2 separate regions of the Homo sapiens genome follow, and region 2 is linked to region 1. A link means that fine-mapping ties the variant in region 1 to the expression of a gene that starts in the linked region. Tissue or cell type: nasal epithelium. Region 1 holds a variant in brackets; the other region holds the start of a gene. All regions are shown on one strand. Distances are between the middles of the regions.

What was found. PIP is the estimated chance that this variant, and not a neighbour inherited with it, causes the effect.
Region 2: TADA2A starts here. The variant in region 1 is fine-mapped to the expression of TADA2A in nasal epithelium (TOPMed, PIP above 0.99). The same link has a PIP of 0.9 or more in amygdala, cerebral cortex, fibroblasts, hippocampus, hypothalamus and lymphoblastoid cells.

Annotation. Positions count from the first base shown.
Region 1 is chr17:37,467,448-37,475,552 of GRCh38, reverse strand. It overlaps TADA2A (transcriptional adaptor 2A), which reads right to left. Exons shown (of 16, transcript NM_001166105.3): 12 at 8,028-8,099; 13 at 5,021-5,153; 14 at 4,416-4,459; 15 at 924-997. Among named protein-coding and RNA genes, the nearest start is that of DUSP14, 18 kb to the left of the region's middle. The variant C/T (reference allele first, on the strand shown) is at 3,952.
Region 2 is chr17:37,403,781-37,411,868 of GRCh38, reverse strand. TADA2A (transcriptional adaptor 2A) reads right to left here and starts at 4,983. Exons shown (of 16, transcript NM_001166105.3): 1 at 4,920-4,983; 2 at 479-600. The coding sequence starts at 503. It overlaps ACACA (acetyl-CoA carboxylase alpha), which reads left to right and starts at 5,033. Exons shown (of 56, transcript NM_198834.3): 1 at 5,033-5,607. The coding sequence starts at 5,570. RefSeq lists an enhancer at 3,167-3,851.

The DNA.
Region 1 (8,105 bases):
TGCAGTGAGCCGAGATCACACCACTGCACTCCAGCCTGGGTAACAGAGCGAGACTTTCAAATAAAAAATAAAAAATAGGCCGGGTGAGGTGGCTCACGCCTGTAATCCCAACACTTTGGGAGGCCAAGGTGGATGGATCATGAGGTCAGGAGTTCAAGATCAGCCTGGCCAACATGGTGAAACCCCATCTCTACTAAAAACTACAAAAATTAGCCAGGCATGGTGGCAAGCGCCTATAGTCCAGTCCCAGCTACTCGGGGAGCTGAGGCAGAAGAATCGCTTGAACCTGGGAGGTGGAGGCTGCAGTGAGCTGTGATCGCATCACTGCACTCCAGCCTGGGTGACAGGGCAAGTCTCCGTCTCAAAAAATAAATAAATAAAAAAAAATAAAAATAAAAAATAATTTTTAAAATCAAAATTAACATGACTATATATGATGTAGAAATCTTTTCCTTAGGTTTATAAACATGCTCTGGAGACAATTTACAAAAATGTTTTAAATAATGATTATGTTGTTGGAATAAGTATAGAACTTTTCAAGGCAGCCATTCTAATAGGAAATATCTATTTTCATGTAGAAGTTACTTTAGGTTTACAAAAAATTAATTTTATTTACATAAAGCACTCAGTAGAGTAGCACATGGTAAGTGCTCAATAGATGATAGTTGCTATTATTATGTCATCTACATACCACATGTGCTTTCCCCAAAAGAGGAATGGTGGTAGGGTGACAAGGTAAGCAATTCTCTGAAATCTGCCACAAACGGCTCTTTAGCTCTTGGACTTCTAGGATTCACCAGAGCTGTGCATATATGTTAGATGAATGAAACAAAAGGGGTTTGACCCTGTAATGGATTTTTAATGACAACTCAATGAATAATCAGCCCCTATTCTCTTTCTCCCAGCCCCCTCCCTTTTGTTACCTCCTTTTCTTTTTCATTCAGCTTCTCTGTGCCAGGGAGGCCAGTGAGGTTCAAGGGTGGTGCACTCCGTCTACCTATAGACAGAGAAAGGAAACAGCATAGATTTAATAGGAGTGACAATTTCTCAGGTGTAAAGTATTAAAAAGTTCAGTGCAGCCAGGCCAGTTAGGTATAGGATCACTATATCCAGCTTAGGAAATCCTGTCCCATTCCCTCAGGCCTGTTTAGCTAACAACATGGGCACCCGAACATTCACTTGAAAATGAATTACATATTCAGGGCACATGAATTACCCATAATCTGCTAAAATACACATACAGTCACACATACCTTAGCATCAAATGTAACTACTCACCACAGTAGTTATCTCTTATTTATTATTATTATTTTTGAGACAGGGTCTCACTCTGTTGCTCAGGCTGGAGTGCAGTGTTGCGATCATAGCTCACTATAGCCTCAATCTCCCTGGCTCAAGTGATCCTCCTGCCTCAGCCTCCCAACTACCTGGGAAGACAGGCATATGCCACCATGCCCGACTATCACCTATTTCTTCCTAACCATGTAGGAGACTCTAAAATCTGATGCCCAGATGTCATCCAGTTAAGAAACATCACACAATGCCTGCTTTGACAGCTGACGAATGGAAATAATAACTGCAGAACAGACATTCCCTAATCCTTGCCACTCGGCCAGCAGTACAAGGCAAACATGGTAATTAACCAAGTACTGTGTGCCTTCAGATCAAAGAAAGACTGTTAGGCCAGCAAAAGGCCCTTCTTTTTTATTATGTGAGGGAATATCTGTTCCTTCCAAAGTAGCCCTGTTTACCTGCAAGATCCACAAACAGGAACAATGAGCCATTATATGGCAAAGCAGGGGCTGAGGTCAACTCACACACCTGAGAAAGAAACCCAAGTAGGAGGTCACTGGCCAGGAGGGGAAGCTTGATGAGCAAAACTTTTTTGGTTTTGTTTTGAATGTGTATTAGGGATTGGTATTCAGCTGGGAATGGATAGACTGAGTTAAGCAAAGAAAATGTCGAAGTTTTATAGAGGTTGCTTTTCAAGTGGGGCAGAGAAAGGGGAGGGACTGTTACAAGCTCCACTGGTGGAAAACAGGCTTCTCTGTTACATCAACAAAAGGCATAAGGGATTATTCCAAATCCTCAAAAAGGGAGATAAAACCATTTGGTTCCTCACAAAAGTCACCAGAGGCTAGGCTACAATCAAAGATGCCAGGCTTCCAATACATAGTTGCCTTAAGAACTCAGAACATAAAGGAGAGCAAGAGATCTCCTCAGCCTAAATATAAGGGGTGAGAAAGGCTAACACAGGCTAGGAACAAACAATGAACAAGAGGCCGGGTGCAGAGGCTCACACCTGTAATCTGAGCACTTTGGGAGGCTGAAGCAGGAGGATCACTTGAGCCCAGGAGTTCAAGACCAACCTGGGTGATATAGTAAGACCTTGTTTCTACCAAAAAAAAAAAAAAAAAAAAAAAAATTTCTCCAGGTTTGGTGGCATTCACCTGTAGTCCCAGCCACTCAGGAGCTGAACTGGGAGGATCACTTAGGCCTGGGAGTTTGAGGCTACAGTGAGCCATGATCACATACTGCACTCCAGCCTGGATAGTAGAGGGAGACCCTGTCTCACAAAAAAAGAAAAAAGAAACAATGAACAAGTCAGTGCAGATAGTACAGAGAACAAAAATATATGATCATGTTAGCCAGTTCCTTCATTTAATTTAATTAATTAATTTATTTATTTTTTGAGATGGTCTTAACTCTGTCACCCAGGCTGGAGTGCAATGGTGCGATCTTGGCTCACTGAAACCTCTGCCTCCCGGATTCAAGCGATTCTCCTGCCTCAGCCTCTGGAGTAGCTGGGATTACAGATGTGTACCACCACACCCAGCTAATTTTTATATTTTTTTTTCAGGAGAGATGGGTTTTCATCACGTTGGTCAGGCTGGTCTCAAACTCCCAACCTCAGGTGATCTGCCCGCCTCAGCCTCTCAAAGTGCTGGGATTACAGGCATGAGCCACTGCACCTGACCCAGTTCCTTCATTTTAATTAGCCAGTATTAACTTAGTTGTATTTAGATTTTGGGGGTAGAGTGTTGGCAGTAAGAAACTTACAAAATAAAACTTTGATTTCACTGTCTTAGCCACTCCCCTAAAACAATACCTTTTTCTTCTTTCCATATTAAGAAAAAATCACTTGAAATAAAGGAATAAATGGGGGAAAAAAAAAAGTCCCTTCAGTGACCAGGCGCAGTGGCTCATGCCTGTAATCCCAGCACTTTGGGAGGCCGAGGCAGGCAGATCACCTGAGGTCAGCAGTTCGAGACCAGCCTGGCCAGCATGGCGAAACCCCATCTCTACTGAAAGTACAAAAATCAGCTGGGCATAGTGGCAGGCGCCTCTAATCCCAGCTACTTGGGAGGCTGAGGCAGGAGAATCGCTTGAATCCGGAAGGCAGAGGTTGCAGTGAGCCAAGATCGCGTCACTGCACTCCAGCCTGGGTGACAGAGCGAGACTCCATCTCAAAAAAAAAAAAGTCCCTAACGCGGACAAATCTGAGACCCAGATTCTGAATCTACTGAGACATACCTCCCCCAATTCCCAGTCATCGATTACCAATCACCAAGGATCATCAGATAGCGTATGGCTTAATCTTGCTCTGTATACTAATTTCAAAATAGGACATACTCAAAGAGGTAAAACGAAGAAATAGAAATACTTTAGGTCTCTAACTCAGAAATCCTTATGTTTCTGGCAAGTAACATGCTTCTTTGCTCATGTTATATAAAAATAAAAAGTTTAGGCTGGGCACGGTGGCTCACGCCTGTAATTCCAGCACTTTGGGAGGCCGTGGTGGGTGCCTCACTTGAGGTCAGGAGTTCGAGACCAGCCTGGCCAACATGGCAAAACCGTCCCTACCAAAAATACAAAAATTAGCCAGGCGTGGTGGTGCATGCCTGTAATCCCAGCTGTTCGGGAGGCTGGGGCAGAAGAATCACTTGAACC[C/T]GGGAAGCGGAGGTTGCAGTGAGCCGAGATCACACCACTGCACTCCAGCCTGGGCGACAGACCGAGACTCTGTCTCAAAAAATAAGTAAATAAATAAAAAATAATAAAATAAAAAGCTTTTAATTTATCTCCTGTGAAATAAGTCTCAAAATTAGTGGTAGACACAACTGCAGTAAACTAACTGCTCATGAACATTGGTAAAATAAAGAAGTTACCTCTCTGAAGTTCTTTTTTCCCCTGTCTCTATACTGTCTATACTCTATACTGTCACTCTGAGGATAGTCTCTGTCTGGCCATGAAGGTTCTGAAAACATACTGATGTTTATATATTGGGCTAACACTTGATTACTGTTACTCTGCCTAAGCACCCTGACACCACAGAGGAAGGAAGATTGCTGGGTCACTATAACCCCTACGATGCAAACTTCACAATTAAGACTTGTTCTGGCCTGAGAAATAATTACCTGAATTCGAAGCCATTGGAATGGAAGGACTCAGGCCGGAATCACTACAACGAAGAAGAGGAATTTAAACTTAGGTCATATCAAACAAGGTGATTTCCAAAAGCCCCGGTGAGACTGGGTGCCATTTATCAGGTAGGTCACCTTGAAGAAGTGTAATGAGATAGACTGAACTATGTTTTACAGATATCTCACTGTATTGAGCAGGAAAGAAAATCTGTTCTGAGGAAGAAAAATTCCTCAGATTTGTTAAGAAGAGCTTGTAATCTAGAACACCACTAACACCACTCAAGGGGAAGGGATACAAACATGATTCCCCAGTGAAAATCTAGGTATGAAGAGAGAGTTGAAGTCATGGGTAGAAGGCTGGGGGAAAATACACTCATTTTAAAAAATAGGATCAAAGTAGTAAAGTATGATTCTAGGAGGTCAGTTATTTCTCAAAACTGTCAGTATGGCACTGTTTCTGAGATGGACTGCTAAAATATTTCTGAATTCTTCCAGCTACTCAATTATTATTACTCTGCCATCTAGGGTGCCCAAAAATATATGTGAAGGCCAAGGCATCCCAGAAAGAATGCCTCCTTCACCCTGGAGTAATTACTCACATGTCAGCTTGCCGGCGGAGCCACTGCTGGCAAGCACTACTGTCCTGGATATACTGGAGAACTTCTGAGAGCATAGTGCGTTTAAGGCGCTCTTCCTCCCGTGTCTTCTTGAGGTGATCGTAGGTTCTGGCACCTGGGGGTATAGAAAACACAATGACCACAATGACAATGCAGCAGAACTGAAGGGCTTCCTAACTGACCAAGAAACCGGTTTTGGGTTTTGTTCTTAAAGTCTGTTTCCTTTGCAAAACTGCTTTCACAATTATTTCTCCAAGACCCAAGTAGATTTTCCCTAGTCTGAAATCCTTTTCTTAATACTAAGTATTAAATATTAAACATTTGTATTCCTTTTCTATCTGTAAGAAATAAGGGGAAAAAAACCAACAGAAAAGTACAAAGAAAGTAAGAATTGCTCATATTTCCACTCTCAAAAAGTAACCAACTTTTACTATAGTCATATTTGCTTCCTGTTTTTTCTATTTTTATAAATTTTTTCAAAGTCACACAAGTGCTATAAGCATATGCCTTTCCTTAAAAAACAATTAGAATTACAAAAAAAGAGTTCTCTTTGACATGTAGTACCTCTTCTCCATATTTCTTAGAGGCAGCCAATATCAGGAAACCAAAATTAGTTATCAGAGTCTCTATATGCATCTTGCTAAACAGAAGAGCTGCGTGGTGTTTTCTACATGTTAACAAAGGTTCACAGATTCCAAAATACTGCACCAGTGGGTTTCAAAATTCAAACTAGGTTCCACAGAGCCCCAGGATACCACAAGAGTATCTTAGAGGTTAATGTAAAGAGAAAGGGCACTGCCAGATACCGGCGGGTCCTGGGCTCTACACATAAATTGAACCATTAAAGTTCAACCAAAGTAATTCCACTTTTATCTTTTTTTGAGACGGAGTTTCGCTCTTGTTGCCCAGGCTTGAGTGCAATGGCGCGATCTCGGCTCACAGCAACCTCCACCTCCCAGGTTCAAGCCATTCTCCTGCCTCAGCCTCCGGAGTAGCTGGGATTACAGGCATGCGCCACCATGCCCAGCTAATTTTGTATTTTTAGTAGACACGGGGTTTCTCCATGTTGGTCAGGCTGGTCTTGAACTCTGGACCTCAAGTGATCCGCCCGCCTCGGCCTCCCAAAGTGCTGGGATTACAGGTGTGAGCCACCGTGCCCAGCCCACTTTTATCTTATTTGTAGATTGGGGCTCACACAAAATTTAATTTCAAAAATGGTTTCCACTGTTAAAGAGCCATTATACTAGGCTGAACTTACATCCATAAGGCTATGTTGCACCCACAGGGCTGTGTTAAGAAGCCAACTATTGCCGGGCGTGGTGGCTCACACCTGTAATCCCAGCGCTTTGGGAGGCTGAGGTGGGTGGATCACCTGAGGTCAGGAGTTCGAGATCAGCCTGACCAACATGGATAAACCCCATCTCTACTAAAAATACAAAAAAAAAAATTAGCCGGGTATGGTGGTGCATGACTGTAGTCCCAGCTACTCAGGAGGCTGAGGCAGGAGACTCGCTTGAACCTAGAAGGCAGAGGTTGTGGTGAACCAAGATGGCACCACTGAACTCCAGCCTGCGCAACAGAGCCAGACTCCGTCTCAAATAAAAAAAAAAAAGAAGCCAACTATTTCTTATAGATAGTAGGTGACAACTATCAATAATCACAAAAACTTCAAATAGGAAGAAGGAGGGAATGCTAAAGATCATTTCAACAATGACAGCAAAACAACAGAAACTGCCATTTATTGAGGAATTATTGTGTGCCAGATACTGTGCTATGCTTATATGCAGTATCTCTAATTAAATCTTTACACTAACTCTAAGAACCTTAGAAAATTAAAACTTGAATAGAGGCCAGGCACAGTTGCTCACACCTGTAATCCCAGCACTCTGAGAGGCCTAGGCGGGAGGACTGCTTGAGGCCAGGAGTTTGAGACCAGCCTGGGCAACATAGCAAGAGTCAGTCTCTAGGGAAAAAAAAAAAAGGAAAGAAAAATAAATTTGGATAGAATCACATCACAGAGCTGGCAAGCTGGAGAGCCAAAATTTATACTCAAGCTTTTTAAGTCTAGACCCAAGCTCTTAACTACTATAATACACTATCTCTTATGACCTGGTTCTAGTACTAACTAGCTCTGTAACCTCTTTATACCTTAATTTCTTCACTAAATGGAAGTAACGGTACTTTATAAGTTTGTCATGAGAATTCATTGACTTGATCCAAGTGAAATGGTTAGCATAGAGACTGGTACATGGTAAATATCTGATAGATGTTAGCTGCTAATAATATAATTATTGTCACTACCCCAAGTAACTGGGATGCAAGCACCTGGAGCCAGTTGAAGCTTCATTATTTTATAAAAATGCTAAGACCATGTATCATTAAATTTGAAAAGGGTGACACACCTAAAATATAAAATTCCTTTTTTTTTTTTTTGAAACAGAATCTCCCTCTGCCACCCAGGCTGGAGTACAGTGGCACCATCTTGGCTCACTACAACAACTGCTTCTCAGGTTCAAGCGATTCTTGTGCCTCAGCCTCCCGAGTAGTTGGGATTAAACGTGTGCACCACAACGCCTGGCTAGTTTTTTTATTTTTAGTAGAGGTAGGGTTTCACCATGTTGGTCAGGCTGGTCTCGAACTCCTGGACTGAAGTGACCCACCTGCCTTGGCCTCCCAAAGTGCTGGGATTACAGGTGTGAGCCACTGCACCCGGCCCAAGATTCCCTTTTTTTAAAGAGCCTCGGCAGAATCCTAAATCTAAAGCAGCACCTCTCTTTCCTTTGTCTCACAACTTTTGTAGTACCAAAGATAATCTATACAAAGGTATTTATAGGGATTAAATAGCCAAAACTTTACTGGAAAGGTTTAAAGCATTCTGGTAAAGGAAAGCTTGTTTTTTAAAAAAAAATTCACAACAATTCAGAGACTTCCTCTGTGTGTCTGGAAGATACTTGCCCTCAAGTACGGTATGTAGCTGAAGCATACTTACTACAAAAATTGGTAATGCCTGCTGTCCTGTATTCTTGGAGCCTCTTGATTTCCCTTCGGAGTTCAAATTCCACTGTTT
Region 2 (8,088 bases), 64 kb after region 1:
AATATGTATTAATTGATTTTATTTTGATACTCATAATTCCCTTAGAATCAGAGTCAAAGGGCTTTATTGCCTAACTTCATCGTTTATTTTTCTTCCTTGATCAACTTCCACTCTAGTTTGCTATTAATAGTCACCTGAAGGCCGGGAGTGGTGGCTCACACCTGTAATCCCAGCACTTTGGGAGGCCGAGGTGGGTGGATCACCTGAGGTCGGGAGTTCAAGACCAGTCTGGCCAACATGGTAAAACCCTATCTCTACTAAAAATAAAAATAAAAAAAATTAGCTGTGTGTGGTGGTGCGCGCCTGTAGTCCTAGCTACTCAGGCGGCTGAGGCAGGAGAACCGTTTAAAGCCGGGAGGCAGAAGTTGCAGTGAGCCAACATCATGCCACTGTACCCCAGCCTGGGCAACAGAGGGAGAGTCCATCTCAAAAAAAAAATAATAATAAGTCACCTGAGACTTGTTCCCACTGTACTTACTGCTAAAGGAACCCAAACGGTCCATTCCCTAATTGGCAACGAGTGCTGCTTTGGTCTTCCTCAGCAGAGCTTCTTCAAGACTTCAGAACCGGCCAACACATACACCAAAGCTTGATGACTCCCTAGGAACAAACAAAAGTGGCACATGGATCAGAAAATCATTCAAAGGGACAAGATAAAGAGAAGATATGCAACATACTCAGCTCTGCCACATCTTAGCTTTGTAATGTTGAAAAATTATTCCACCTCTGAAAACCTGTTTCTTCCTCTGTAGTGGGTATAACAGTGCCTACCTTCCAAAGTTGTGAGAATTAAATGTTATAATCAAATATCATAATCCATATAAGTAATGTAGCATGGTACCTGGTCCTCTATAAATGCTACATATTTTTCTTTTTTATGAGGAAGGATCTGGGTCTATGGGGCACTGAGGGTGGCAGGGGCAAATGCTACATATTTCTAATAAACAACTGTTGGCTTTCTCTACTCAGCATCATTTCTCTCCTTAGCTGCCATCTTTATTTGGGAAACTGACCCTCCCACATTTCATGTGATACTGGTGGGGCTGCCAATCACAATACCCCATTCCCCACCCCTGACAAAAGCTAAAGCAACCAGGTCTCTTCTTCCAGAAATCTGGATCTTGAGTAAGACATGAAAGGACAGAAGGCAGTTGGAGCTTAGTTATTCACTAGAATTCATTCAAAGAATTCAGTCCATGTGCTCTGGCTGTTGAAATCCCTAGCCCCAGGTGGCTCAACTGTTTAACTCTTCTCTCATTTCTCTCTCTTTAATAAACTTTAATAAACTCAACTTTAATCATAAGACTGAACGAGTTTCTGTAACTGGAAACCAAAAAATCCTATCTATTACAACATACATTTGTTCCTCACTCTTTCAACAAGTACGTAACAGGGCCAGGCACAGTGGCTCATGCCTGTAATCCCAGCACTCTGGGAGGCTGACGTGGGAGGATTACTGGGACCCAGGAGTTCAAGACCAGCCTGGGCAACATAGGGAGACCCCATCTCTTAAAAAAAAAAAAAAAAAGTTAGCCGGGTACAGTGGCCCATGCTTATGGTTCCAGCTACTCAGGAGGATGAGGTGGAACGCTTGGGCCTAGGAGGTCGAGGATGCAGTGAGCCACCACTGCACTCCAGCTTGGAGGACAGACTAAGTCTCTTTTTCTTTTTTTTTTGGAGACACAGTCTGGCTCTGTTGCCCAGGCTGGAGTACTCATTGCAACCTCTGCCTCCCAGGTTCAAGGGATTCTCATTCTCCATTTGGTTCTCATTTTTGATTCTTGTGTCTTGTGCCTCAGCCTCCTGAGAAGCTGGGATTACAAGCATGTGCCACCACCATACCTGGCTAATTGTTTTGTATTTTTAGGAGAGACAGGGTTTCACCATGTTGGCCAGGCTGGTCTCGAACTCTTGGCCTCAAGTGATCCGCCCACCTCGGCCTCCAAAAGTGCTGGAGTGCTGGGATTACAAGTGTGAGCCACCATGCCTGGCCCAAAGTATCTTCTTTGAAGCAGAAATAAAATAATATTTTACACTAAGTCAAAAAATAATCCTTCTTCTGTACACTCACAGCTTTTTGTTTTTGTTTTTGTTTTTTTTTGAGACTAAGTCTCGCTCTCGTTGCCTAGGCTGGAATGCAATGGCACGATCTCAGCTCACTGCAACTTCCGCCTCCCGGGTTCAAGCGAGTCTCCTGCCTCAGCCTCCCAATTAGCTGGGATTACAGGCGCGGGCCACCAGGCCTGGCTAATTTTTGTATTTTTAGTAGAGACGGGGTTTCACCATGTTGGCCAGGCTGGTCTCGAACTCCTGACCTCAGGCGATCTGCCCACCTCAGCCTCCCCAAGTGCTGGGATTACAGGCATGAGCCACCGCACCCGGCCCACTCACAGCTTTTTATCTGGCATTTTTCACATTCTACTTTGTGAGTATTACTTCTGAATGTCTATTTTCCCCCACTTCTAAATTAAGTGAAAGCAGGCTGGGTGTGGTAGCTCATGTCTGTAACTCCAGCACTTTGGGAGACTGAGGCAGATGAATCTCCAGAGGTCAGGAGTTTCAGACCAGCCTGGGCAACATAGTGAGAACCCCGTCTCTACCAAAAATACAAAAAAATTTGCTTGGCGTGGTGGCGGGCGCCTATAATCCCAGCTACTCGGGAGGCTGAGGCATGAGAGTTGCTTGAACCAGGCAGGTGGAGGTTGCAGTGAGCCGAGATTGTGCCACTGCACTCCAGCCTGGGCGACAGTGCAAGATCCTGTCTCAAAAATAAATAATAAATAAGTGAAAGCAGAGACTATATCGGATACCTATCTGTATGCTTTTAAAATGCCAAGCATACAGGAGGAATACAATAAACACATAGTAGTGGACTAATAAATGTTAATTCTACAAAAGGTTAATTTATCTTTAGCTTTTCTGAAGTGATTTTTTTCACCCTGGTAATTTTTAGCTTGGAGAATAATTCATCACTAAGTGTGGGCAACATTTCTGCTAACGCTGCCATCAAAGAACTTTCCCTTTTTGGGGTGGGGTAGGTCTCCCTTTGCTGTCCTCTCAGGAAAAGTTGAGCTCTGAAGAAAAATGAGTCTAGCAAGGGTGTATTACGAACGCAGCAATCAAATAACTGCCAAATTTACTGAACTTTTTCAATTTGCTAGGTACCCGTGGGTACCAAGGTGTGGGGATTCTTTGAATCCTCACTCCCACACTTTTGGGGCAAGCTGCTTTTTCAAAAGCAAGCAAGCTCTGAAAGAGTATGTTACTTGCGCAGTGTCTTACAAGGGATAGCTGTGTCATTTCAAATACAGATGTCAAGGCTGGACGCAGTGGCTCACGCCTGTAATCCCAGCACTTTAGCAGGCCGAGGCAGGCAGATCACCTGAAGTCGGCAGTTCGAGATCAGCCTGACCAACATGTAGAAACCCTGTCTCTACTAAAAATACAAAATTAGCTGGGCGTGGTGGCGTATGCCTGTAATCCAGCTACTTGGGAGGCTGAGGCAAGAGAACTGCTTGAACCCGGGAGGTGGAGGTTGCGGTGGGCTGAGAACGCGCTGTTGCACTCTGGCCTGAGCAACAAGTGTGAAACTCCCTCTCAAAAAACAAAAACAAAAACAGACGTCCAGTAAAGGATGCACAGTCAATAGGGACTGATCAACACTCGAAAAAGCACAGTAGGAGGCCGGGTGCGGTGGCTCACGCCTGTAATCTCAGCACTTTGGGAGTCCCAGGTGGGCAGATAACCTGAGGTCAGGAGTTCGAGATCAACCTGGCCAACACAGCGAAACCCCATCTCTACTAAAAATACAAAAAATAGCCAGGTGTGGTGGCGGGCGCCTGTAATCCCAGGTACTCGGGAGGCTGAGGCAGGAGAATCGCTTGAACCTGGGAGGCAGAAGTTGCAGTGTGTTGAGATGGCGCCATTGCACTCCAGCCTGGGCGAAAGAAACGCCATCTCAAAAAATAAAAAAATAGTAGGGCCGGGCGTGGTGGCTCACGCCTGTAATCCCAGCACTTTGGGAGGCCGAGGCGGAAGGATCACTTGAGGTCAGGAGTTCGAGACCAGCCTGGCCAACATGGTGAAACCCCACCTCTGCTGAAAATACAAATATTAGCTGGGCGTGGTGGCCCACGCCTCAGGCACGAGAATCGCTTGAGCCTGGGAGGCGGAGATTGCAGTGAGCCGCGATCGTGCCACTGCACTGCAGTACAGCCTAGGAGAAAAAAAAAAAAAGGCAAAAAAGCACAATATTGCAGTCTGCAGAATCTTCTTTCTCCCCCTTTCACAAGAGACCACATTCTGACACCAACTTCCGTGGAAACACTGGCGCTAGCTCCAAACTAACAATCGCCAAATTCGAATCAGTTACCGGGAGAAGGAAGTGAGGCACTTCGCCGGGCAGGAGTCCACGTTGGGAGGAGGAAAGGCGCAGGCTCCCGAGTTGTGGAGCCAACGTTCAAATCCTTACGGGGTGGGACCGGCCTGGGCCAGTCATTTTACCTGCGCCTCAGCTCTAACAGGGTACTGAAATACCTACTTTGGGGGGCCTGCTAGGAAATTCAAATGGGCAACGCTGGTCAGGGGCATCTGGCACAGTGGCCATTCTTGGTAGAGCTACGCGCTCCAGGGCTGAGCGGGAAATGGCGAGGCCGGGGCACTGGGGCACCGCCCAGACGCGGGGCGGGCCCCCGGGGTCAGGCCCGGCCCCACACCGCCCTCCCCCACAGAGCGGCGAGGCCCGCCGCTGCCCGCCCGCCGGCCCGCCAGCCTGCCGCGTCAAGCCCGCCGCCGGGGCCCGCAGCCCGCGACTCCTCCCCCGCCGCACCTCGTGGCCCCCGCTTCTCCCTAGTCCCGCTAGAGGGGCTCGCGCTCCGCCACCCGCCCGCCCGCCCGCCCAGCGCTGCCTGGCGCCTCACCTCGCCGAGACCCCCTAATCCGCGCCAAAGAGCCGCCGGTCGCGCGCGCCTCCGGGCTTTGCGTGCGCGCCCCCGGGCGGCGCAGTGGCGAGCGCGCCGCGTGCCGCGCGCCCGCCGCCTCCGCCCCTCGGCCGTGGAGGCCCCCGCCGGGTGCTGAGCGCCCGCCACCGCCCTCTTGGCCTTTTCCCGGTCCCCGCCGCGCGCCTGCTGCTGTCCCCGTGCCCGAGGACTGGGAGGATGGGGCTGAGCCGCTTGCCTGACTTTTGATCCGACCAGTAATCACTTTGCCCGTGTGGCGCGTGGCCCGTTGCCTGAGGCTTCCTGGCGCGTGGGGCTGTTTGGTCCCCTCCGGAGTGCGGTGAGGCGGGCCGAGCCGGGACTGCCTGGGTTTGGGGATAACGTTCCCATCTCCACCCCTGTTGCAGCAAGGGAAATTGAGGCTGAGGGAACTGGGCCCAGGGACGGCGAGCCGTGGCGCCTCTCCAGTCCGGGCCCCGAAGGGCTGCTCGTGGATGAACCAGACTGATTTTAAGGGGTGAAGAGGGTGCGTTTCAATCAGATGCTCCTGGAACGTCGAAATTGTCTTCTTTGGAAAGAACCATCCCCTCTTTGGGCTTCAGAGGCCCAAATTGAGGCGCAATGATGAGAGGATGTGGTGGTCTACTCTGATGTCAATCTTGAGGGCTAGGTATGTCCCAAGATCTCTTATTACTGCTGTTAATGATGATTCTAATAGCTACCATTTGTCGAGTACTTATTGCATGCCAGACATTGCACAAAGCAGGTTACACATACGGTCTCATTTAAAACTTGTGAGGTAGGCACCTGTTGTTATCCCTATTTTCCAGGTGAAGAAATCTAGGCACTGACATAAATAACTTGGGATCACACTGCTAGGAAGTACTGGGGAAGGGAATTCAAACCATGGTTTATCTGAACTATATAACTGTTACATCTATTTAGAAGTCTGCCTTTGATAAATTTGCCCAACCTTTTTTTAGAATTCACTTACACTTTATGCCTGTGTGAACCCTTTCATTCTTTTTTGGTATATGCATAATACAAGTTCATTCCAAAAAAAAAAAAAAAAAAAAGCCCTGCCGGGCGCGGTGGCTCACGCCTGTAATTCCAGCACTTTGGCAGGCCGAGGCGGGCGGATCACAGGGTCTGGAGTTCTAGACCAGCCTGACCAACATGGTGAAATCCCGTCTCTACTAAAAATACAAAAAATTACGCGGGTGTGGTGGCAGGCACCTGTAATCCCAGCTACTCCGGAGGCTGAGGCAGTAGAATCGCTTGAACCCTGGGGGCAGAGGTTACAATGAGCCAAGATCTTGCCATTCCACTCCAGCCTGGGCAACGAGAGCGAAACTCTGTCTCAAAAAGAAAAGAAAAGGAAAGAAAAACCACCTCCCACCAGGTTAAATAAATAATTAACATTTTGGTATGTACCCTTCCAGACATTTTCCTATGCATCACATCAATAAATATATGATAGGATATTTTACATTTGATGTATCCTGAAGATTAATTCAACAAATGTTTAGTGAGTAGGCTTGTTGTAGGTGCTGGGAATTCAGCAGTGAACAAAACAAAGTCTCTGCCTCATGGAGCTCATATTATAGTAGGGAAGACTGTCAATAAGCAATATACACATTACTAAATGATAGATAATGCCCAGTAATGTGGCAAGTTTTATGGAAAAATAAATCAGGATAAAAGGATAAGAGTGATATGGGGATTCTCTTAGTTAGGGTAGATAAGGAAGGCCTCTTAGCTAAGGAGGCACATAAATATCTGATCATTTAATGAGAGAAGGAGCAACATGGATTTCTAGAGGGAAACTATCCTAGAAGAGAAGCAGCAAGTGCAGTGACCCTGAAATGGGGATTTGTTTGGCATGGAGAAAGGGCAAGACCAGTGTGGCTGGAGCACAGCAAATGAGAGAAATTAGATGGAAATCAAGGCAGATCATGTATCATCTGGTAAGGTTTGGATTTTATTGGGAAGTGACAGAATATGACGAAGGGTTGAGAGCAAAGGAGTAGCTTTGCTGTAAAAGGATCACTGTGGGCTGGGAGCGGTGGCTCACACCTGTAATCCCATCACTTTGGGAGGCCGAGGCAGGCGGATCACTTGAGGTTAGAAGTTCGAGACCAGCCTGGTCAACATGGTGAAACCTCATCTCTACTAAAAATACAAAAAAAATTAGCTGGGCATTGTGACGGGCGCCTGTAATCCCAGCTACTCGGGAGGCTGAGGTAGGAGAATCACTTGAACCTGGGAGGTGGAGGTTGCAGTGAGCCAAGATTGTGCCACTACACTCAAGCCTGGGCAACAGAGTGAAACTGCATCTCAAAAAAAAAAAAAAAAAAAAAATCACTGTGGCAGCTGTGTGGAGAATGGATGGTAGAAATATTAAAATTGCCCTTTGCCTGGTGAAGTGGTGTGTACCTGTAATCCCAGCTACTCGAGAGACTGAGGCAGGAGGATGGATTGAGCCCAAGTTTGAGACCAGTCTAGGCAACGTATCGAGACCCCCATCTCTAAAAAAATTTTAAATTGCTCTCTAAGGCATAAATTGTCCTTTTACATGGTAGTTGTTCAACAGATAGTTGATTAACATTAGTGTTTCACCTATAGCTGTACAGCTTTACAACCACTCTCAACTTCACATAGTGGAAGTGGGGTCAGTCATTTAGGACATATCTGTGTCTTTGTCATTGAAACTCAAATTTTGAGACTGGCTAAGGCAAATATCCAGATCTGGATGTCATGATTGTCAACAATGAATATCAGTAATCAGTGTTGTAATACTGTAGAAAAATTAGTCCCACATAATACTGAGATCTAGTCGTTAAAAACATAGCATTCAGGGGCCAGGCACAGTGGCTCATTCCTGTAATCCCAGCAGTTTGGGAGGCCAAGGCAGATGGATCATTTGAGGCCAGTAGTTCAAGATCAGCCTGGGCAACATGGCGAAAACCCATCTCTGCTAAAAATGCAACAATTAGCTGGGTGTGGTGGCGCATGCCTGTAATCCCAGCTTCTTGGGAGGCGCAAGAATTGCTTGAACCCTGGAGGTGGAGGTTGCAGTGAGCTGAAATCGCACCACTGCCCTCCAGCCTGTTCAACAGAGCAAGAGTCTGTCTCAAAAACAAAAAAACAA